Linked DNA regions of Homo sapiens: region 1 is linked to region 2. Evidence: fine-mapped expression QTL. A gene starts in region 2. The other region holds a variant in brackets. All regions are shown on one strand. Distances are from middle to middle. Region 1 overlaps LOC105379330 (a long non-coding RNA gene). Region 2 holds the start of NEFL (neurofilament light chain).

Evidence for each region. PIP is the estimated chance that this variant, and not a neighbour inherited with it, causes the effect.
Region 1: its variant is fine-mapped to the expression of NEFL in fibroblasts (GTEx, PIP above 0.99).

What each region holds. Positions count from the first base shown.
Region 1 is chr8:25,001,141-25,013,758 of GRCh38, forward strand. LOC105379330 (a long non-coding RNA gene) reads left to right here. Exons shown (of 3, transcript XR_949591.2): 2 at 7,254-7,447; 3 at 8,578-8,901. Among named protein-coding and RNA genes, the nearest start is that of NEFL, 51 kb to the left of the region's middle. RefSeq lists an enhancer at 1-211. The variant T/C (reference allele first, on the strand shown) is at 6,847.
Region 2 is chr8:24,949,011-24,961,628 of GRCh38, forward strand. It overlaps NEFL (neurofilament light chain), which reads right to left and starts at 7,602. Exons shown (of 4, transcript NM_006158.5): 1 at 6,462-7,602; 2 at 5,171-5,295; 3 at 4,466-4,785; 4 at 1,945-3,942. The coding sequence starts at 7,505. The coding sequence ends at 3,800. MIR6841 (microRNA 6841) reads right to left here and starts at 4,857; the gene lies at 4,786-4,857. RefSeq lists an enhancer at 5,153-6,352.

The sequences.
Region 1 (12,618 bases), 52 kb after region 2:
TGCCAGCCGTGTTGCTCTGGCTTTTGTATTTTAACTCCGTGGGCTTCTGTCCCCATCCCCATGTAAGGCCAGTGCCCCCTTCCGCGTTTTGCCGAAAGTATCTTCAATGCCCGTTTAAAAAACTATGTCTGCGATTTCTCCATCTCTGCTCTTTCCCAGTTCCTCTCTTTTCTCTTCTTCAGGCCCCCTCCTGTCCTTCCTCATCCTTTCACTGAGCGGGTTCAGGCCCTAGTTACTACCGCAGGCACCAGCCACACCCGGGGAGATGTGTGCTGTTTTGTGCAAGACGCTGCGGTCACCCAGTCCGGAATTCTGCTGGTCTACACCGAGTGCCGCAACACCACCACCACCTCCGCACACATACGCCCTCCTTGAACCTCTTCCCCATGAATGCTTTGGCTTTTAAGGAACTTTGTGGCGTTTCTGCTCTTTCGGAGGCAGCTGCCCGAGGCAGCTTCCCAAGGCAGAACAGGGACTGACTGCTGAGGTTCCGCGGGGTCGGGGAGGTGGAGAAGCCAGTTCCCAAGTGGCTCGTCGCGGGTGTTAGAGTCCCTCGTTACTAAGGACGCCGCCGCCCGCGCGCCAGGCTTGGGGACCAGGGTGACTCTGCCCTTTCTGGGCGGAATACGGGTGAAGGCTGTCTTTGGGGATCCACAGGTGATCTGTGCCGTTCTCATTGTATTCTCAACTCTCATCCCTTCCAGGTTAGCCCGATCCCTTTAATGCAAGGATCGGTGCCGGGAGGAAAGAGAGCGTGGGCCACTCTGGAACGGAGGCTGGTGTTTTGGGGGAGCGGGGAGAGCCTGTAGCCCACACATCTCCACGGCTCTGGCCCAATTTCTCCACTTTTTCACTTCGATCTAATTGGTCTTCAAGGTTCCCGAGGCTGCGCACCAGTTTTTGATGTCGATTGAACAGGGCTCCAGATTAATCACTTGTCCTCACAGCCCTTTGGAATAAGATTCACTCTCTAGCTGTTTAAAGCTTTTCTTTCGGTTCTAGGAAACAGCTTATTTTTCCGCTTTTCCTATCAGACTTTGACACTGGACTGTAAAGTTTTCCCATGGGTTTTTGCATATCCCTTCGACAGGCTGTATTATTTACAGAATTGGGTAGGGGAAGGCTACTCTGTCAGCTGTGGTTGGTTGCCTTATCTTTGTTCTTGAGAGAATAGCTTGGACTTTTCCACCACACATGAAGATTTTATTTGAAAGCAGAGATACTTGCCCCTGCCAGCTACCATCAGATAAAATTAAATAGAAGGCCATACTTGTATCTCTGGGGTGCATGCTTAGTACTGCAATCATGTAAGTAATGGACATTTGACCATCTTTCCCTTTTAACTCTCACAACTCTGGCAAAACAAGAATAATTTTCTTCATTTTTACAGTGTTAAGATCTGGATTTGAACCCAATCCTATTTTCAAGGCTCTTCTACTATCTCATAAAAGAGTATGGGCATGGAGGCTGAAGAAGCCAAGATTGTTTGGATTATTTTGAATTCCAAGGTTAGGAAATCAAAATTTTTTAGGGTAGATGCAGTTGCAGTTAGAAAGGAGAATAGCACAGAATTTGAAAGCACAGACAGAAATCTTACAGTCTGGGTCAGACCCTGACTCTGCAGCTTACCATCTACTAGAAATTACTTAACCTTCCAAACTTTATTGTTTTATTCTAAAAATGGGGCATAGCAATAACACCCACCTCACAGTTTCACTGAGGGGCTTAAATTAGATGCATCTGCAATGCTTAGCACAGGGGTGGACAGAGGTGCTTAATCAATGATAGATGATGTTCTTATAAATACTAAGATCAAAGAAGAGGAAAATTTGGCTTCTTAAACCAACAACACTTCTATTTCCATTCTTGGCTTCTTCTCCTGTATCCAGACAGGCTGATTTCAGTTTAGGAAAAAGCATACCATGTACTATTTCCCATCCTAACATTTTTATGCAAGTAAAATCAGTTTAAACAAAGAACAGACTTAAAAGAGTAAGTCACAAAACTTGTAGCCTTATAAACTGTGCATGTCGGGGCTTATCCTTTTTGGTGAGGTCATTTGATGTTTGGGAAAGAGTTCTGAAGTCACACAGACCTACCCAGCTTTAGGACTTCACCATGGACTGCTGCGAGCTAGTATAAATTATTTAATCTCTCAAAGCCTCGGGGTTTTTATTTATTCAAGACAAAGATTAATAATATCATCTTTCCAAAGTCACAGTAAGAATTAAGCCATATTATGTATGTAAAAGTGCTTAGCAGAATTCTTGGCACATCACTGTTCCTGAATAAATGAAACTTTATTTTCCTTCTTTCCTTGGTCATGATGAGAATTGACTGGGTTATCTATTGATTATTTTGTGCATGAGCCTGTGATCAATCATTCTTCTTCCACAGATAGAAATGTGCACGCATATTAAGGTTAACAAGATTTGTGGTTGTGAAGTATAATTCTAAAGCCTCACAAGCATGAAGGGTGTGTGGACGTTTTCCTGAGTCATCCTAGGGAACAAAAGGGAGTGGGCAGAGCTAGTTACCAGAGTTGGAAAGGGATGCATCAGTCATTACATTCAGGGGCTGTTAGTTGGTTCCTTTTGCAAATGGGCTGTGAACTGCAGATGTCCCTGGGAGAGAAAATAGAAAATTACTAGCAAATTCCTAAGAGAACCTGGCCTCTTTAAAGAAGAGAAGACACATTGAGCTGGGAGTTGGAGGAGAAATGAGAAATTGAGCCACAGACTCTGAAAGATATCATCTGCCAAGAGGGAGATGAGGCTTTAAAAAGAACTTTAAGGATTTGTACATCTAGTCATGATGCAGTAACTGGTACTGGACTAGTTTTTTAGCTTTAAACAACTAGAAAGCCAGGAGAAAATATTTGAGGCTGGCAGTGGACAACAGACAGCCAGAGATGGTTATTTCTGAGAGAGAAAAACTTACAAGGTGAACCCCCAAATCATCCAGCTCTCTGCTGGAAGAGATTTTTCTAACTGTAGCACAGAGAGCTGAGGTCCAAGCAGGGCTCAAGAGTTGGGCCGAACAGAGAGAGAACAGAGTTTAGCAAAGCTGAAATAGTTGAATCTGCAGGGTGGAGCATCAACAAGGAGGTAGCTTTATAGAGAATACTACCCTAATCCCATATGAGGACCCCTTGTGAGGTCATGACTGCGGACTGGGCTGTAGATGAGCAGGAGACCACCTGGGACTCACAGGTTAGCAAATATTTGTGGGGGAAAAGATACTAGCAATGCTGGGGGAAGAGTTGTGCCCAAAGACTTTGGAATTCTGACCTGGAAAGAATAGAGATTTCAAAAACACTTTATTAACACTCCTGAAATCCAGCTAAGACACCAGAACTGCTTTTGTTTAGCAATAAGGGCTAACCTCTACAGCGGGGATGAGCAAACCTTTTTGTAAAGGGCAATATGTTCAATAATTTTCACTGTGCAGACTATATGGTCTGTACTGCAGCTACTCAACTCTGCTGTTGTAACAGAAAATCAGTCATAAAAAAATACTCAAATTAATAGCATGTCTGTGTTCCAAGACTCATTTCCAATATTTTCAAAAATAGAGAGTAGGCAGGATTGGTCTGAGGGTCAAAACATGCTCGTTCTAGAGTAAGACCTATTCCAGAATTGCAGTAACACAGCCTAAAACGGAGCCTTGACAAATAATTGGGGGGTGGGGAGTACAGAATTTGAAGGCCAAGTCCCATCAAGGTAGAGGAACTTGGGAAATGACTTGATTAAGGTGATCAGCCAGTAATTGAACTGCTTGCTAAACAATAATTAGCACTCTTCAGAGGAAGATAACAGAATTTAGAATTTCTTCAACATACTATTCAAAATCTAGTATTCAATTAAAAAAATCACTAGACAAACAAGAAAGTAAGAAAATATGCTCTGTAGTCAAGAAAGATAGCAGTCAATAATAACCAACCTGATGGCTCAGAGATTGAACTGAGCAGAAAAATATTTTATATCAGCTTTGATAAATATATCAAAAAATTGAATAAAAATGTGTTCAAAGAATGAAAGAAGCTGGTACAGTTGTGCATGCCAGTGCATCCTAGCTAGCCAAGAGGCTGAGACAGAAAGATCTTTTGAGCCCAGGAGTTCAAGACCAGCCTGGGAAACATAGTGAGACCCCATTACTTAAAATTAAAAAAAAAAATTTAATGTAAGAAAAAGCAAGGTCTGAAAATGAAGAAATAGGAAATCTTAGCAGAGAAATGAAAACTGTAATGAAAATAACTATCTCAAAATTCTGGAACTGAAAAGTACATTAACTAAAATGAAAAATCTAACAGCTTATTAGAGATGGCAAGAAAAAAGAATCAGTGAACTTGAAGATGGATTAGCTGAAACTATTCAACCTGAAGAAACAAGAGAAAAGAGACTGAAAAAAAATAAATGCAAACTCAAGGAACCGTGGAACAACACAAATAGTCTAACATACATAATTATAATTAGAAACTTCAGAAAGAAAAGAGAGTCAGATTAGGCAATTTTGAAAAAAAATCCCAAAACTGATTATATTACAGATCCAAGAAGTTTGACAAATACAAAACAGGATAAACATTTTTTAAACTACTCGTAGGCATATTACAGCCAAATTGCGGAAAAATCGAAGATGAAAAAAAAAGTCTTATAGCAGCCAGAGAAGACACACTGCATACGTCGAACCAAGGATAACAATGATCACTGATTTCTTATGAGAAAGTGTCCGGAAGACAACAGAAAGACATCTTTTCAAGTTGGACCCAGTGGCATGTGCCTGGAGTCCCAGCTAGTTGGGAGGCTGAGGCAAGAGGGTCACTTGAGCCTAGAAGGTTGAGGCTGCAGTGAGCTATGATCAAGCCACTGCACTTCAGCCAGGGCAGCAGAGTAAGACACTTTGTCAAAAACAAAAGAAGGAAGGAAGGGAGGGAGGGAGGGAGGGCAGGAGGGAAGGAGGGAGGAAAAGAAAGAAGAAAGAAAGACATCTTTTCAATGCTGAAAAAAAAAGTAAAGTCATAATTATGTGTCCAATGAAAAGATCCTTGGGGGAAAAAAGAGATCAATAAAGACATGTTCTGATAGATGAAATCTGAGACAATTTGTTACTAGCAGACCTGCACTATAAGAAATGGTGAAGATCCAAGGACTAAGGTAAAATGGTACCAGATGGAAGATCTATAGGAGGAACAAAGAAGCTGGAAATGGTAAATAAATGGACAAATATAAAAGAGAACCCAGGTCCAGACATTCTTAGAGAAGCCTCCCTGAAGGTAATTGTTCTTATGCCCTGGCTGGTACAACTGCTGCAGATGGGACGCTAGCCTGTACTGAGTACTTCCTGCGTGATAGGTAGCAGGCTAGACACTATCTATCTAAAAGCTGATTTAATGTACACATCAACACTGTGGTAGAAATTACTATTTCCTACAGCTATGGTCCATAGTTGAAGAATTTGGAAGCAGGTCCTGGTAGGATATTGCTTGAGTCCTTTGGTCCCAGTCCAAGTCAGTTTCATATCTACTCAAGACAGAGAAATTTTAGCACAATCTGATGGCTTCTAGAGTCATCTCAGTATAACCTAGCAAAGGATCTAGAAACTGTGATGGACTATTCATTCCTTAAGCACTTACTATGTGCTAGACATTGCAGTATACACGATTTTATTTTAATGTAGACTTTGTGCACATTGTTTCTTGTTTTTTTGTTTTGTTTTGTTTTTGATTTTGTTTTTGTTTTTGAGACAGAATCTTGCTCTGTTGCCCAGGCTGGAGTGTAGGCTCACTGCAACCTCTGCCGCCCGGGTTCAAGTGATTCTCCTGCCTCAGCCTCCTTCCTGAGTAGCTGGGATCACAGGTGCCCAACACCATGCCTGGCTAATTTTTGTATTTTTAGTAGAGACGGGGTTTCACCATGTTGGCCAGACTGGTCTCGAATTCCTGACCTCGTGATCCATCCAACTTGGCCTCCCAAAGTGCTGGGATTACAGGCATGAGCCACCGCGCCTGGCCCTGGTTTCATTTTTTAATCTCTACAACAAATTTAAACTGGTACAATTATTCCCATTTGACACATGAGGAAACTGAGGTTTTCAGAGGTTAGGTCATATTCTCCTGGTCACACAGCTGGTAATGTTAAAAATCATGTCAGTCTGATACCAAAGCTCGTAACCACTAAATTGTAACATGATCCTAGGATGAGGGGAAAAGAAGAAAAAGTGAAAGTTTACTGCTAATGGATGACAAGGAGGCAAGTAACTGAAAGAATCATCAGACTTTAAATTCATTCTCAGGAAAGCTTGAGGGAGATGACCCCTGATGCGTGTGTGGTAGAAGCTCCAAATTTTACAGAAATGTAGGTTAAAGCCACTGGGGCCTGTGTGAAGGAGAAAAGAGGGATCACACCGAAACTGCTCCAATTAGGAGTGTCTCTACAAGGGCTTAAACTGGTAGTGTCCTTGGTTAAATCTCTGATTATTTTTCATATCCAGTGTTTAAATCATGAATGGAGCCCTCAGGGGTGGCACTGCAGTTAGCAACGCAGGCTTTCCAGGGAAATGTCTTTACTGATTGTTTCCCTGGAAACGGTTAGGCTTCCATTCTGCTGAGTACCCCCCAGCACTCTCCAAGTTCCCTCTGTGTTGGAAGTCTCTGTTTAGAGTGGGAGGAGGAAACATGTATCAGCTGCAACTTTCTAAAATGTTGCACTTTGTTGCAATAAATGCCACTATTTCTGAAGCTGTCACAAATGTTGCAACACTGTCACAATAAATAATCACTATTTCTGAAGCTGTTGCAAAATGTTGTGATATTGTTGCAATAAATATGTTGTTTATGAAACTGTTGAA[T/C]TTATTAGAAATGTACTTTGGAGGCCGGGCGTGGTGACTCATGCCTGTAATCCCAGCACTTTGGAAGGCCAAGGCGGGCGGATCACGAGGTCAGGAGATCAAGACCAGCCTGGCTAACACGGTGAAACCCCGTCTCTACTAAAAATACAAAAAATTAGCCGGGCATGGTGGCGGGCGCCTGCAGTCCCAGCTACTTGGGAGGCTGAGGCAGGAGGATCCCTTGAACCCGGGAGGCGGAGGTTGCAGTGAGCTGAGATCGCACCACTGCACTCCAGCCTGGGTGACAGAACGAGACTGCTTCTCAAAAAAAAAGAAAAAGAAAAAAGAAAAGGAAAGAAATGTACACTGGAAAAGGGAAAGTGTGTGTTGGGTATTAGGCGTAGCAGAATTCCTTCTTTCCTCCCCAGTGCTATGGAGATATAAAGTTCAAGAACACAACATGCGTGCTTTCGAGGAGCGTATCATTATTCAGGAAGTCAAGACACCAGTGAATGAAAAGAAAACTCACTTTCTGCAATAGCGCAAAAGAGCAGTGAAGATGGTGCTCAGATGAACTGTAAGTGTTCAGATGAGGGAAACCATGGAAGACATCATGGAGGAGGTGAGACTTGTACAGGAGGTGAGAGTGAGCTGTTGGGAAGATATTCAGAATTGAGGGGCAAAGAGACGGGTAGTTTTCATGGGTGGACTTCAGGAGATTTGTGATCCATCTGAATTTACACACTAACATCCATGTATTTGTATATTTTTCTGGAAAGAGCAACCGATTGCATAAAGTTCTCAAGGAGTCTTTAGCAACCTAAGAAGTCAGAAAAAAAAAAAAAAAAAGACAGTACCGTAGAGGCCAGAAAATTATCAACAGCTTTATCATGGGTCTTACAGAAATACACCATCACCTTGGGTTACCTTTTTTTTTTTCTAATTACCTATAAGTAATTTAAAAGTGGATAATTTCAACGTTATGGGGAGGGTCTCAAGGTCAGCAGGGTGGGGCACACTGGGGATAGAGAGGTCTTTTGGCACTGCTATACACTGAGTAGGTGACTGACTGCCTCTTTGGGAGCCCACTGTCTCATAAATTCTTGAATCAGGGAACACTTGGGGTCTGTCATAGGGAACCAGGTGCCCTGATTTGTGAAACGTCAGCTATAGTAATTTCCTGGTATGCATATATAAATAATATTTGACCTCTGTGTGGAAATAAAAAGGTTTTCACCTTGCACTCCTAGACTGTGATGCTCCACAGTCATTGGTCTGCCTATGAAACTTTTTCTTTTTCTCCTTTTTTTTTTTTTTTTCGAGATGGAGTCTCGCTCTGTCACCCAGGCTGGAGCCTCCCGAGTAGCTGGGATTACAGGTGCCTGCCACCACTCCTGGCTAATTTTTCTTGTATTTTTAGTAGAGATGGGGTTTCACCAAGTTGGCCAGACTGGTCTTGAATGCCTGACCTCGTGATCTGCCAGCCTCGGTCTCCCAAAGTGCTGGGATTACAGGTGTGAGCCACCGCACCAGGCCACTTTTTTTGTTTTTCAAAATTTTTGTAGAGACAGGCTCTCACTATGTTGCCGAGGCTGGTTTCAAACTCTTGGCCTCAAGTGATCCTTCCTCCTGGGCTTCCCAAAGTGCTAAGGTTACAAGTGTAGCCACCACAGTGGGCCTAGGAAGCTAATTTAATACAAACCCCATCTCCCTCTCTGCTCACAGCAACCTCATCTTCCATTCCAATTCCAGATTTCTTCTGTTCCTGGTAGAATTGTGAGATGCTGCATCTGCGTTCCAGCTTTCAAGAATATAATCTATCATCTGAAAACTTAAAGTCTTTTTTTAAAAAAATTAGATCAAAGCAGAGAGAAAATGATCTTCAAGTTTCTTTACCAAACTTGGTATGTTCTTTTGGACTGAAAACTGATGGAGTTGGAAGTGACTTTTGTAGTGAAAATGAGGCTGGAGTAATTAATATTGTTCCAGTGTTCTGGTTATGCGCAGGAGTGAATCATGATACCCAAATTACAATGACTCATCTCTTCTGAGAGAATAAATTGTGATTCTATGAAAGTTTTGCTTCACTAGGAATTTTTTGAAGGGTTCTGTTTGTTCTAGTTTAGAAACCTACACAGGCAATATGGGCTTTGCAAAGGTATAAAATTTTCTTAAATAAAACTAAACAAAGATCTATTTTGATTTTCAGCGTTGGATTTTTTTTTTTTCTTGCCTTTCCTTTGCTTCTGGGAGAAAGTATCTTCAGACAGGAAGCTTTGAGCTACTCATAAATTCTCCCTAACACTGCAGAAACATATTTCACTATGAAATGGTGGAGATGACAGTAAGAGCCTCTTGTTTGAGGGGCAAAGCTGAGACATCCTGAATGCTATGGAAGTTTAATCTTCCATGCTGACGCAATCACGGGAATATTGTGCTCCTGGGGTTTTCTTTATTGCCAGCTACTGTCTAATGCCAGGACAAAAGGAATAATTTGATTACAGCCGAGGAAAGCACAGTTTGTTCCTGTTACTTTTAAGTTTCTTTCTGTTTTTCATTTGTTTTGAAATGAGAGATTGAGAACTCAGAATGTATTTGGTACAAAATGAAAGATAACTACTGCCTAGAGCTATATGGCAAAGACTGCAATATTTAGGGTGGCTCGAATAAAAGGAGCTCTCTGCTTCTTATCTAGTTAACAAAATGATAAAGGGATCCTGTCTGGCATATGCGATTAATTCTCCCTTAGGAAAGGGACATAAATTATTCTTAATTGCCGAGTTATGGGTCTGTTATAATTAAAGTTTGTTACTGGGGGTAAAATGACACCAAGGGAGCAAAGACTGGACAATCTGCCCACATGGGAATGTGTCTTCACCTGAACTTGGACCCATTTGTGAATCAGCAAAACTTTAGCTTTCTTCCTCCATCCTGTGCTCCTTCTGTTATGAAACCTCATTGGCTCCATTCTTCCCAAAAGCTTATTTCTGTCTGTGAACTTTCCTACCCATGTTGAGGTCGTATTCTGTCAGTGGAGAGGAGGACTGAGTCTCTTCTCTTTTGGATGCAACTTGAAACCTGAAAATCTGAAAGGGGAGAACATTCTCCAAATCTACAAATAGCAGATTGGCTTAATTTTGAAGCCTTCTTGTCCTCAAAAGAAAAAGGGGTGGGGTCAGGGTAGAAAGAGTTATACAGTCATTTTAGGTTTTGCACTTGGGATCAATGAAGGAGTTTGTTTGCCTTAGGATGGGAAAAACTTTTAGAGCCCCCTGGAGTTCAGTGAGCCAGATAGGTGATCAAGTCTCAGGATGAAGCCAATGCTACAGGTACTGATGATAACATCAAACAGGTCTCAGGGTCTCCAAAGTTTAGTAGGGACCTTGAGACACCATGGAGACCACTCCTATACTTTCCCAACATTTGTATATTCTCAGACAGCTAAGAACCCATCAGCTTTATGAAGCCTTCCTGAAAGAGAGGTTCTGCAGAAATCTTATCTCCCCAACTAGCATGTTAGTACTTCATGGAAAGAAACTGTGTATTGGATTGATTTTTAATTTTTTAGTTTTTAACTTTTGTGGTACATAATAGGTATATATATTTGTGAGATACATGAGATGTTTTGATACAGGCATGCAATATGTAATAATCCCATAAAGGAAAATGGGGTATCCATGCCCTCAGGCATTTATCCTTTGTGTTACAATCTAATTTTACTCTTTTAGTTAGTTAAAAATGTACAATTAAATTATCTTTACTTGGACATTGTTATATCAACATTGTGTAGTAAAGTTCTGTGCACAGTTTAGATGTTTAATGCATATTTAAGGCCTAACTGAACATGTTCCTTGAACCTTTTTCTGGCACCTGCCCTCCTTAACCCACTAAGTTTGAGAAGAAATTGGGAGATGAAAGATGGTCCAACTACCTTCCCGTCCCTCAGTTTATATCACGCTATGGTAAACTCGTGGCATCAGAAGTATTTATCCTCAACCCTCCAGCCTCCCCTTCCTAGTATCCCCTCTTAACACCAAATAACCAATGAATAGAGGAGTAGGTACAGACTAGAGAGCCTGGGCTCAGCTGCAGCCCAACTTAGCAGTGTTTCAGTTGAAAAGAACTTCTTCTCAGGCAAGAAATAACTAAGATCAGAGCAGAACTGAAGGAAATAGAGACACAAAAATCCCTTCAAAAAACTAATGAATCCAGGAGCTGGTTTTTTGAAAAGATCAACAAAATTGATAGACTGCTAGCAAGACTAATAAAGAAGAAAATAGAGAATAATCAAATAGACTCAATAAAAAGTGATAAAGGGGATATCACCACCGATCCCACAGAAATACAAACTACCATCAGAGAATACTATAAACATCTCTGCGCAAATAAACTAGAAAATCTAGAAGAAATGGATAAATTCCTCGACACATACACCCTCCCAAGACTAAACCAGGAAGAAGTTCAATCTCTGAATAGACAAATAACAGGCTCTGAAATTGAGGCAATAATCAATAGCTTACCAACCAAAAAAGTCCAGGACCAGATGGATTCACAGCCGAATTCTACCAGAGGTACAAGGAGGAGCTGGTACCATTCCTTCTGAAACTATTCCCATCAATAGAAAAAGAGGGAACCCTCCCTAACTCATTTTATGAGGCCAGAATCATCCTGATACCAAAGCCGGGCAGAGACACAACCATAAAAGAGAATTTTAGACCAATATCCTTGATGAACATTGATGCAAAAATCCTCAATAAAATACTGGCAAACTGAATCCAGCAGCACATCAAAAAGCTTATCCACCATGATCAAGTGGGCTTCATCCCTGGGATGCAAGACTGGTTCAACATATGCAAATCAATAAATGTAATCCAGCATATAAACAGAACCAAAGACAAAAACCACATGATTATCTCAATAGATGCAGAAAAGGCCTTTGACAAAATTCAACAACTTTCATGCTAAAAACTCTCAATAAATTAGGTGTTGATGGGACATATCTCAAAATAATAAGAGCTATCTATGACAAACCCACAGCCAATATCATACTGAATGGGCAAAAACTGGAAGCATTCCCTTTGAAAACTGGCACAAGACAGGGATGCCCTCTCTCACCACTCCTATTCAACGTAGTGTTGGAAGTTCTGGCCAGGGCAATCAGAGAGGAGAAGGAAATAAAGGGTATTCAATTAGGAAAAGAGGAAGTCAAATTGTCCCTGTTTACAGATGACATGATTGTATATCTAGAAAACCCCAGCGTCTCAGCCCAAAATCTCCTTAAGCTGATAAGCAACTTCAGCAAAGTCTCAGGATACAAAATCAATGTACAAAAACCACAAGCATTCTTATACACCAATAACAGACAAACACAGCCAAATCATGAGTGAACTCCCATTCACAATTGCTTCAAAGAGAATAAAATACCTAGGAATCCAACTTACAAGGGATGTGAAGGACCTCTTCAAGGAGAACTACAAACAACTGCTCAATGAAATAAAAGAGGGTACAAACAAATGGAAGAACATTCCATGCTCATGGGTAGGAAGAATCAATATCGTGAAAATGGCCATACTGCCCAAGGTAATTTATAGATTCAATGCCATCCCCATCAAACTACCAATAACTTTCTTCACAGAATTGGAAAAAACTACTTTAAAGTTCATATGGAACCAAAAAAGAGCCCACATCACCAAGTCAATCCTAAACCAGAAGAACAAAGCTGGAGGCATCACGCTACCTGACTTCAAACTATACTACAAGGCTACAGTAACAAAAACAGCATGGTACTGGTAC
Region 2 (12,618 bases):
TTGATCCTAACTGCAGTGGAACACTGTGAGTGTATATGTGGCTCTTGAACGGTACACGACTGCCTTGTAAGGATTCTGACTATTGTGTGAACTCCCCAACCACTGTCACAAAACATGCCTGTGGAAACATACTCTGATGCCACAAGTGTACCTTATAAGCTGGACCACAAAGGAGATGCAGTGAGGTGGGTGAGTCTGAGTCTCAGCCCTGCCACCAACCAGCTACATGACCTTCGTCGACTCACTTAACCTTAGTTTCTTATCTGTAAAATGGGGATTATAGGCTGCTCGCAGTGGCTCACACCCGTAATCCCAGCAGTTCAGGAGGCCAAGGTAGGCAGATCACCTGAACCCAGGAGTTCAAGACCAACCTGGGCAATGTAGTGAGGCCCTGTCACTATTTTTAAAAAATACAAATAACTTTTAAAATAATAATAACATAGGGAATGATAATCATAGTGGACTCAGAATGTTGTTGCATGTAAGGAAATGAGTTAATGCAGAAAATGTACTTAGAACAGCATCATGGGACATAGTAACCCCCTCCAACAGCACTGGAATCTCCATATGGGTAAAAAAGTGACGAATTTAATTGCTTACCAATTTGAGCAGTTAAATTGCTAGCAATGAAACTTCACACTAAGTTTAGCAATTCCCTTTAGGGGGTGGATTTTTAGTGAGGACATGAGTATCATATGTGTGTTTTCCATTCAGCCATTTAGCCTGGACTTCTAAAATAAAGCAGTAAGGGTATTTCAGGAGATTTTGAATTATGAATCTAGAATGGATCTGAAATGTCCACCACTGAACCCTTGTGTAGATAAGCAAATTGAGGTTGGGCAGGAATGGCCAATGTTCCATAATAGTGCAAAGCTAGGACCCAGGATGGACTCTTGATTCTTGGTTCTTTGCTCTTTCTACAAGAAGGTATGGACTAGACTGGGACTTATTATTGAACACTCTTGACTTGCCAGTCATCTTGAAGGCATTTTAATCGATGGGGAAAGTCACTCATTAAATAAATATCCACTGTGCTTCTACTATGGCAGGAACTATGCTGGATACTGGGGCTAAATTAATGAGCAACAGAGATCTGATTCTAATACTTGTAAAGATCCCACTGTAATGGGGGAGGCAGACATTCATCAACTGATCACACAAATAGATGCTAATGGCAAGAATCAAAAAGCCTACAAAGTCTTATGTACATATTTCAAAGAATTTGACCCACTAGAAGAGGTCAAGGGAGGCTTCCTTTAGAGAATGACATTTAAGCCTAAATCTGAAGGGTCAGTAGGAACCGGCTGGGCAAGGCTGAGGGAAGGAGAGAAAAGATGAGTGCTCCAGAAAAAGGAATCACCAAAAATCCTGTGACAGATGGGAGAACAGAATACCAGGGTGACTGGAGTGCTGGAAGTGGAGGGAAAGGGCTGTACAATGGGATGAGGTTAGAGAACTAGGCAGGAGTCAGCACTAGGCAGGCCTTGAAGATCACATTTGAGATTTTGGTTTTCATATTAAAAGTGGGAAACTATTAGAGGGTTCTATTCAGGGAGATGCCAAGATCAAAATTTTCTTTTTAAAAGATTAGCCTGCTGTAGGGTGCTAATTGAAGGAGACCAAGAGTAGGCCCTGGGAGAAGGGTTAGAGTGGTGGCAGTATAAATTGAAAGATGTGGAAGGATTTAAGACATTGAAAGATGTGGAAGGATCTAAGACATGGAGGTGTTCTCACTATAACTCTGTGATAGGTTAGTGTAGAGGGGCAGAGGAGAGGTAATGGGAGGTAGGATGTCATTTAAGGAGTCCATTTAATGGAATCAGATGATTATAGAGAGGGGATCATTCATTAGGAGAGGGAATACTGAAAGAGAACTGCAGGTTAAAAGGGGCACTGACCACAGTACCAAATTTGGGGAAATGTTAAAAAAGACTTTAAGCTCAATTTAGGTTTTTTACTATTTTATTATGGCACACAGGATAGAGGATGGTACAGTTTTCTTACTTCAACCAAGTAATTCTCAAAGCATCCAGCTATTTCCATTTGGCTAAAGTTACTTTTTGCACATAGCTTGCATCTGTTTGAGACTTACCATGTACATCAACCCAGGTCTAGTAAGCAGAAATGTGAAAAGTTTTGTTTCTGAGGAGACGCCTCATCTTTACAGAAGCCAATACACTGAGAGCCTTCATAGTTCCAATCCATTACCATCATGGCAAGGAAGCACTTTACCTATTTGCATAGCAACATATATTTAACTAGAAATAGGTGGTACAAAGGGATTAAGTAACTTTAAATGGAGACCACTTTGGTTTCAGGTTAAATTAATAACTTATAGAGATCGTCTAAAAAACAAATATTGAATGAAATTAGCTGACAAAGCAATTGTTTCAGAACAAAGGCAGAATAGCAGATAGTAATATCATCTATATTTATTCCACATCAAATGCAAGAGCGTTCTTAACTTTACGACAGAAAGGATACATGGGGCGTGTATTTGATGCAATGTCCAACCAGTCAAGCTATCATTGAAATCCAAATATCTCCCAGTAGAGACATGCAGAGCAATGTCAATGTAACATACAAGCATATTACCTCCCCCCTTAAGTGACTCATAATTTCATTACTTGTGTCTGTAGCTTTTAAAGGTTTAAAAATGTGTAGCATTAAGTGGTATTTACTTGAGGCAACAGAATTACGCTTAACAACACACTAAATCATGAGCTCAGGATTGCAGGCAACATGTTTGCAGTGGAGTGGCAAATAACCTTTGGTAGTTTTAATCCCTTCTCCTGAAATTATATATAGATAAAAAATTATTCCTTCTTATTGTACCATGTTCTCAGGTTTTAACCTCCTCCCATGATATTTAGACTATATTTTAAAATGCAGTTATAGGGATGAATGTATGGGATTCATATTCTATCCATATTGCATTGTGACATATCAGTTTGAAATGACCTATTTATCATGGTTCCATAGTGTAATGGTTAGCACTCTAGACTCTGAAATGACCTGTTTACCATAAAGAGTGTATCTGTCAAGTAATTTCAGAATTGCTCCCTAGAAAGCCATCCCAAAACCTAACACAACACGTGTTATGAGGCAAAGTCTATTGTTATTTATAGACTTTCTCATTTACTCATGTTTATTATCAGTAAAATTTTTGTGGGGAGAGATTTCACAAGTAATCATGACATAACTGTATCCCTCAGAATTTCCAATTGAAGGAAGAAAAAAAAGTATTGGTAATTGTTAAAATTTCAACTTTTTAAAAAATTGGAGGTCAATAGTCCACTGGTATATACTTTATATTGGTGCCATCTTTAAGGTATTTTAATTAAGTAACAACCACAGCAAAAAATACATCATTCGGTATAACTTTATTTACTATTTATTGCACATAACTCAGGGTCTTTAATTGCTAACCACCGAAGGTTCAAAGGACTATTTTTCCATGAAGTTTAACATTAACATTAGTGAATTCATTTACTCATGTGGTGTTTTTTATTGTAAACATCTGAATGATTCACATTGCCGTAGATCCTGAACTCATAAGCGTGGTCCATGCACAGGCTGGCAGCAAGCCAGAAAGCCACTCTGCAAGCAAACAGATACTCTGCATAAAGAGGAAATTCATAGCACAACATTGAATGTCCAACCTAAGTCATCTCAGAATTATACATATATTGACTTTTTAATTCACATAGAATCTGGAACTCAACTGGTTGGTTGGTTGGTGATGGGGTTGACCTGATTTCGGGAGAATTATTCCTGAAATAATTAAGGAAATGGGGGTTCAATCTTTCTTCTTAGCTGCTTGTTCCTCCCCAGCACCTTCAACTTTCTTCTCCTCCTCTTCAGCTTCTTTGGTTTCCTCTCCTTCTTCACCTTCACCTCCTTCTTCTTCTTCTTTTGCTTCTTCAGACTCTTCCTTGGCAGCTTTAACATAAAAAGAAAATGTACAAAATGCAAATCCAGGGTAAGTCCAGTCAAAACATGTCTGCAAAGGTTTTATTTGCAAACACAACTGTCAGAATGCTACCAAAACCTCCCAGCTCCACTCTCTCCAAAAGCACATGTAACAGACAAAGCTTGCCATGAATAATTTGCCACTGAACACATATTTAAATCGAATGAGATCACTTCTAGGTATGGGAAGCTCTGCTCCTCTCCAAGACTTAACCTCAATATTTCTTTCATTATGTGTCTGGTATCTATTTTTGTTCTTTAGGACACCAACCTGCTGTGTTAAATGATTATATTAAAAAATGAAAATTTTGACCAATCACCTCATTCAGAGTAGATGCCTTAGGAAAGTTTTGCTAAACAAACAGAAAATTTATTTATGATTCTAATGTCATATATGAATAAATGAGCAAGGCTTCATTTGTCTTATCCACCTCCTAACAAATCTCCACACCCAGTTTACACTTGAAGTTGCAGGGGTTTTTTCTTATCATACCTTCTTCCTCTTCAGCTGCCTCCTCTTCCTCGGCCTCTTCCTTGTCCTTCTCCTCCTCCTCGGCTTCTCCTTCAGAGGGGGGCTCATCCTTGGCTTCCTCAGCCTTGGCAGCCTCAATGGTTTCCTCCACTTCGATCTGCTCCTCTTGGACATGGCTGGTGTAGTAGGACGGGAAGGAGCGGGTGGACATCAGATAGGAGCTGGTCTGTAAACCGCCGTAGGCAGATCGGCCAAAGACCTGGGAGCTCTGGGAGTAGCCACTGGTTATGCTTCCCACGCTGGTGAAACTGAGTCGGGTCTCCTCGCCTTCCAAGAGTTTCCTGGGGATGCAGATGCAAGGTGAGGTTAAAAAACACCTGTGTTTCACAACTTGCTCTGAGTACCCTAAACACAAAGGCAAGCAGGAGCAGGGCTGGGATTTATCAATACTTAATGCCTGGGGATCTTTTGATGGAGACCAGAAAAAATATAAATAAATCATCCTATTAGATTTAAAGTGTAATGACAAGATAAAAACAGGACTCCTAATTACAGGGTTAAATTCTTATATATCTAAATACCCTCTTCTTGGAAGAAGCCAAAAACTAACACTTCATTATTTCAAAAGGACTATTATTGAAGGTTTCTGATCCAACATAACTTTAAATGGGATCTGATTTTCTTCCTAAGGTTTAATGGCTGCTGTCTTTGCCCCTCTATTTTCACCTGTAAGCTGCAATCTCAATATCCAAAGCCATCTTCACGTTGAGGAGGTCTTGGTATTCTTTTAGGTATCGTGCCATTTCACTCTTTGTGGTCCTCAATTCATTTTCTAATTTGTTGATCGTGTCCTGTTTGAAGACAAAAATAAAACAAAAAAAAAATCCGAGCATAAATCCCTTCTATTATTTTACTGTAGTGTAGTTGCAAAGGCCTAGTTTCGATTAAAATCAAGGTGCACACCTTTGATAAAATCTCTCCTAGAATAACTTCCTGTATCTTTTGAAAAACCTTCATGCCTAAAATACCCAAGTTCATGAAGCCTGAGATGAAAAAAAAGATGGACGAAAATTCTGTTCTTCTGTTTCTTTACTTAATACTGTTTAATGATCATCATAAAATGCATGCAAACAGACTAAGTTGATAGAAAAACTGTGTCTCTCATTCACTGATTAACTCTTCTTTAGCTGGGTTACATGCCAGGAAACTAATGCCTTTCTTTATGAGAAGAAAATAGCCAGATGTAAACAAAAAAAAGAAAAAAATTATTTTCTATGAAATATTTCCTATGTATCTAAATTATTTTTTCTACTCCCCAGAAGAAGAAAAAAATTTCTACTCCCCAGAAGATGGAGATGTTTTAAAATGGAGATCTTTTTAAAATTGTATTTTTTCTACTCCCCAGAAGATGGAGATGTTTAAACAGAAATGTTGTAGAAGATTTTACACATAAAGAAAAAAAGAAAAAAAAAAGGTAAAAGGAAATGGTTTACTATGAACATCACTAGTTAACTACCTAAAACAATGTTGACTATTTTCCTGTCTACCTACTAAATAAAGGAAGGGAGTGGTTGGTAAAACTAGTCATAAAGCATGCTGGTCACAGTAATCCTTCAGAATTAATTGAGAGTTGTTCACTCTACTATTTATTAACTAGATGATCCGATAGTTGCTGCAAAGTAACTTGTGGTTAATGCAGGTCAGTAGAGAGCTGATCTCACTGCAGGCCGGAGGCAACGCCCAATTCCCACGTCTTCCCCTCCCCCACCCAACAAGGGCTGGGCAGCTTTAATGCGGAACGCCGGTGCAGCAGCACGGAGCACACTCCCAGACTACAGTGGCGCCCGCACTCACGCCCTTCAAGTGCCCCACCCCTCCCACACAGTGGCCAAGGAGCCAAGCCCTATCCCTAAGAGCTGCGTGCAGCCGCACCACCCCTGGTCTCCACTTTCTGGGCGCACCAACTCCCCCCCTTGCTCGAGTCCCCCGCCCCCCTGTGTTTCTGGCCGTGCCGCACCTGCATAGCGCTGATGTCGGCGTTCTGCTTGTCCTCCAGCTCCTGCAGCTGCTTCTCCAGCGCTTCATTCATGCCCCGGCATGCTTCGATTTCCAGGGTCTTGGCCTTGAGCAGACGACGGCTCTCGGACACCTCGTCCTTGGCGGCGCGCACGGCGTCGGTGTTCTTGGCGGCGCTCTCGGTCAGCACGGTGAAGCGGCTCTTGAACCATTCCTCAGCGTTCTGCATGTTCTTGGCGGCCAGCTTCTCGTACTGCGCGCGGATGTCCTTGAGCGCGGCGGAAAGGTCGGGCTTGGTCACGTCCATCTCCACGGAGATCTGCGCGTACTGGATCTGCGCCTGCAGTTCGGCGATCTCCTCTTCGTGCACTTTCTTCAGAAAAGAGATTTCGTCCATCAAGCTGTCGATGCGCTTCTCGAGCTCGGCGCGAGCGAGCGCCGCCTCGTCGGCGCCTTTGCGCGCTTCCATCAGCCGGCCCTCGGCGTCCTCGCGGCTCAGCACCTCCTCTTCATAGCGCGCCTGCAGGTTGCGCAGGGTCTCCTCCAGCCCTTCGCGCTCGCCCTGGAGCGCCTGCTTCTCGTTGGTGGCATCTTCCGCCGCCAGGCGCAGGTCGCGGATCTCCTGCTCGTACAGCGCCCGGAAGCGGGATGGCTCGGAGTGCTTCTGGCGCAGCACCAGCAGCTCGGCTTCCAGGACCTTGTTCTGCTGCTCCAGCTCGTGCACGCGCTCGATGAAGCTGGCGAAGCGGTCATTGAGGTCCTGGAGCTGCGCCTTCTCCTGCGTGCGGATGGACTTGAGGTCGTTGCTGATGGCGGCTACCTGGCTCAGGTCGAGGTTCTCCAGACTGGGCATCAACGATCCAGAGCTGGAGGAGTAGCTGCGGCGCACGGACAGCGAGGAAGACACCGGCGCCGAGTAGCTGGAGTAAGCTGAGCGTGCGGTGCTGTAGCCGCTGCGCACGCTGGAGATGTGCACCCGGGGCGTCTCCACGTAGCGCCGCTTGTAGGAGGTCGAGTAGTACGGCTCGTAGCTGAAGGAACTCATGGTGGCGGCCGGTGGCTCCCCGGCCCGCGGCGGCGGTGGGAGCCCGGAGAGAGAGGACAGGGGAGAGAGGGAAGGGGGAGGATGGATGGCTGTGTGCGGCTCGGCGCCGTTCTGCCACCCCTATTTATACGCCGGGAGGCTCCTGACGCAGCCTGCGATCGATCACGGCACGCCGGCCAGTGGGGGCAGCGCGCTGCTGCAGCCAAGGCGAGGATTCTGCGCAAAAGGGAAGGCGGGGTCGAGCTACGGCCCGAGGAGCTGCGGCGGTCGTCCTTTCCACTTTGCTCAGAGGGCCCTGATTTTCTCTGAGATCCCATGCCCCCTCACTCATTTCCCTTCTGTACTCACTCACGCAGCCCCTCCCGTCCTGCATTGCCCAGACCCCGTGACACTTGGATCCTTAAGTTGCCCCCAAAACAGGTTCTTGCTCCCTTTTGACACCCTAGTTTTCTGTATCCCGTCACCTCGCAGACACCCTGTCCCCCCAACTCGCCCTTTTCCCACCAGGAACCTCCTTAATTTTTTCCCTTGGTGTTTACGGTGATGGTGCGGCTAGGGAATTTTAGATACAAATAAATAGGCTAGGTTATGTGTATGCAGTATGTATGGAGAAGAGTTTTAATTTCTTTCTAGCTTTCTGGCACTTTCTGCAATTCATCTTCCTTTCTCCTGATTATTTTTCTTTTTCTTTAATGAGCTGCTTAACACATAGGGAATGTGCGCGCGAGTGCGCGCGCGCGCGCGCACACACACACACACACACACACACACTCGTGAAACTGCGGCACTACTGCAGGTATTGGTTTAGCATTTTTAAACCTTTACAGCAGTTAATCCGCCTGTTAGTGTTTCTAGATTTTCACATTTCTTAACTGAGAATGAAGCCGCAGATGGCTTTAACGTGTTGCAGTGTGTGGGTGGTGGAGGGCAGAGAAAGAGTTGGAAACACAGAGACTGACTTGCTGAGGCAGCCGCGCGCTCCGCAGCCGGGAGCTTCAAGCTGCCTGGATCCTCACCAAGCTAAATTCCTGCTTGCTACCACCAACCGCAGCACATTTAAAGTCCGCTTTCCTCTTTTTACACATGTGTAGCACACGACCTGATGATTTCGATAAGCCTTGCAGTTGGCTGATTTTCAGGGAAGCCGCTGCGGCCAGCCCTGAGCGCTGGGTGTGGTCTCTGGGGAGGAGAACTCGGCACCCAGGCTTCTTCAGGAACGGATAGAAAATAGCCATAGCCGCGTGACTCTTCCCCCGATACAATGTAATAACCCGAAAACAGATGCAGTCAGGAATGCATGGATTTCCTTCAGGAAGCACCCAGATGCTTGAAACTGGCGCACGCGGTAGCGCACGTGGATACAACCCTACGGTTTGCAGGGCATTTTCACACGCATGATGTTAGGAGTCCCCCAGGTTTCATGGAGGGATTGCAGAGATTTACACGAAACACCTAAGATTTATCTGAGCAAGCATTTAGTTTTTGTTTTATTTGTATATCGCAGCATTTGATGTGCAACTTATGTTTTTTTTAAGAGGCAAACTGAGGGGGAATATGGTAACTGTTTTCAAATAGAGAAGCCGGAATGGCTTCCCCTGTGATACTTGGAGGGTGAAGTATTTGCAGTGGTGCAGTTGCTTCTGGAGACATTTCACTCCTCTCCCGAGGAAAGGATGGGGTGAGGCTTATCCTCAGAGGCCCTTTCTCATCCCCCCCCCCAAAAAAAATACCTGTGATTGTGATAGCCCACCGTCCTCATGATAGACTGCAGCAGATAACTTTCCTCGGGTTTCTAAACAATGTCTGTTGTCGCAAATAATGCAAATTCACAAATATTGAAATTAGTAGTTTAAATCTATCAAGACTAAGTGATCTCAGAGGACCATCCATGCCCAAATATTCTAGATTTCAAGCCTAAGGTCATGAGGCTGTCCTGAATATTGTTTGTCCCTGGCAGGTTTGGTAGGGTACTTACTCTGTTGACTTTTCATAGCCTAGCTATCCTTGGTCTTTTCACTCATGAAATTCAAGGGTGGAATAGGCTTCTCTGGAGGCGGAGGGTGGAACAAGGACCCAGATAAGCCATAGAGTTGTCTCCTCCCAATTACCCATATGTAGATGAAGCATGGCAGAATGGATTATTTTGTTAACCTGCTCCCTGCAAACCTCATTGTTCCACACTCAGTGTGTGTGAGTCTGCATAAAACACACTCTCAGGTATTTATGAATTCGTTTCCTTTGTGCCAGCTGTCTTTCCCCGGAGTTTCAGGTCACCCTCAGATCTTAAGTCCATCAGCGTTTTTTTTCTTTCTTTCTTTCTTTTTTTTTTTTTTTTTTTTTCTTTTTTTCCGCGGCTCCTCCCTGAAGCCTTTGACTGCAGAGGAGGCTGCCCAGAAAGGAGAGGGGCGGCGGGTGCTGCAGAGGGATGCTTCAGAGAGAAGAAACCATTGGGGCACCTGCTGCCTGCCGTCCCCTGGGTAGCTGGAAAAAAGAGGAACACAGGAGCAAAGGGTGAGAATGGGACCCTTTCCTGTGCTGAACCCGGCCCACAGAGTGGGGGAAGGGGCAGATCCACAGCGTTTAGGCTTATCGATCTCTGGTCTTTTTAAATATCTCCTGGCCTGGCCACCTCATACTCCACGACAGCCTTGCTTTGCAGGACTCCCGAATCCAGCCGGGGTCTGAGTTTTGGTTACTCTATCTTCAGCCTTCCTCTGCCAGGTGCCTGCCTCTTCTTTAATATTCTGTCCAGTCATCCTCCTTTTTGAATCCTCTTTCCAGCATTTTGCTCTAAAAGCACACATGGCATTGCTTTGTGTGGCAAAGCAAAGTGAACAACTTTAGAAAACCTATTTAGGTAGAATATATATATTGACTTTTTCTTTCCCTCACCATAAATGTTTCTGATTAGTGCTGTTTGTAGTAGAGTCGCAGTCTCTTTAGAAGGAGGCTTTTGAGTCTTGTCACACCCTTATGCATTTATTCCCCTTTAAACATATTCTCTGCAAACCTGAACTTGGTTGAGGGCTATCAACAAAACATGCTCCTGGGAGATTAAAAATATGGAAGTATGTTGATGACCCCTTTAACAGAATTCCTACCACTCTGGTTATCCCTAATACTTCTGTAACCCTCCAAAGAACTGTCCCAGGTCATTTAGTTAAAAAGCAAATATCTTCACAGTAATAATAATAAAAAAAACATAAGGCATAACTCTTAGAACCACTGAAAACATTCTACTTCTCCAGTGCCAGCAGAGCCTGAAAGTTTCAGATAGATGGGACCTGGCGACTGATGACTTTTCATTTTATTATTCTAAAGCCATCTGAGAAAGCAGGAAGTTCTGTATTGGCATGTGTTTTTGAAAAGGTCAGCTTTAGGGTAGGGCCCATGAAAAGCCTCAGTCCAAGAGTCAAAAAAGTCAAGTTCTCCTACCACCAATAAGCTCTGGCAGAAGTCCTAGGACAGAACAGCGGATGAGTCGGCCGGGCGCAGTGGCTCATGCCTGTAATCCCAGCACTTGGGGAGGTCGAGGCGGGTAGATCACAAGGTCAGGAGTTCGAGACCAGCCTGGCCAATATGGTGAAAACCCGTCTCTACTAAAAATACAAAAAAATTAGCCAGGTGTGGTGGCACATGCCTTCAATCCCAGCTACTCAGGAGACTGAGGCAGGAGAACTGCTTGAATCTGGGAGGCGGGGTTGCAGTGAGCTGAGATCGCGCCACTGCACTCCAGCCTGGGTGACAGAGTGAGACTGCATCTCAAAAAAAAAAAAAGAAGAAAGAAAAGAAAAAGAACAGCCGATCAGCAGATGAGTCTCCATCCATCTCACCACCAGGTAGATACATCAGTGTCACCAAAGCTGGCATCGGTACGTGGATGCAAGGAAACCCAGTAAATAAATGCATGCAAGATACCTGCTATATGACAGGCATTTGCTATCTTGTATTGAATAATGACAAGATCACCTGGAGATGGTCACTATTATTCAGAGCAAACAGCTGAGGCCCAGAGAAGTAAGTAATTTGCCAACTCACACAGCTCCTTCAAACCTAAGCTCCACCTGCTTCCAGACTGAGGGTTCTACTCATTCCACAAACTGCAGCCATTGGCATTTACTGCTTCCTTATGTCTCTGTGGAATTTGATAAGCGAAGTCTGCCATCTGCAGAGTTTAGCGTGCATATAATAAACCTATCCTGCTTTGGGGACACCAATTTGAATTCTTCTGCACCATGAGGAAACCATTAACGAGCATGCTCCATTTGGGCAGCTAGTGGCAGCAAAAAACTACATGATTGTTGTAGGTTTCTCAAATATCCCAATGTAAAATAAAATGGGTGTGGCCAGTGGAACATGACACATAACTGGCACTGTAACATTTTACATGCAACTCTAAACATCAATTTACAAAACACCCTTTCAGGAATTAATAAGCTAAAATGCAAATTAGCTGACCTAACTCTTTAAAATGGCCACATCACGACTTCCACTTTTTTTTTTTTTCTGATTACAGTATCTTCATTTTCCACCCTTGTAAATGGGTTTTCTTTGGAAACGTGCCCTTAAAAGTTGCTCTAAGGAATAAAAGAAAAAAATGCTGGCACTGAACACCTCATTATTGGAGTTTATAATGCTTTCTGCAAGTCTTTAACTTTCTCCAAAGCAGCATGAATAAAGTCAACAGAAATGTATAGCTTGTTGAAATCACAAAGATCTTTCATCTCTGTTTCTTGTAGCCAGTTTATTTCTTTGTATATTTTGCTCACGACAGGAATCATACGTGAGTCTCCTTCATCTCTTGGGAAATATGTTTGTTTGAAAGAAAACTTTTCCCATTTTATTATCAAGTATGTCTATTTTACAGCACCATATTTTGAAGCGATGCATCATAAAGTGTGCTATGTGGCTATATAAAATTTAGATTGCAGCAGGAACGAGAATGTCATTTGAATAGATTAAGGATGGAAAGCACATTTATATTCAGAACACGTGCAGTATGAGAAATGATGGGAACTCACTGCTGTCCAAGCAGAAATGATGGTGATAGGTTCAAACTCCTAAATGCTCGCTCCAGAAAACTAGCGAAGGTAATGTGTTTTCTTCCCAGAGG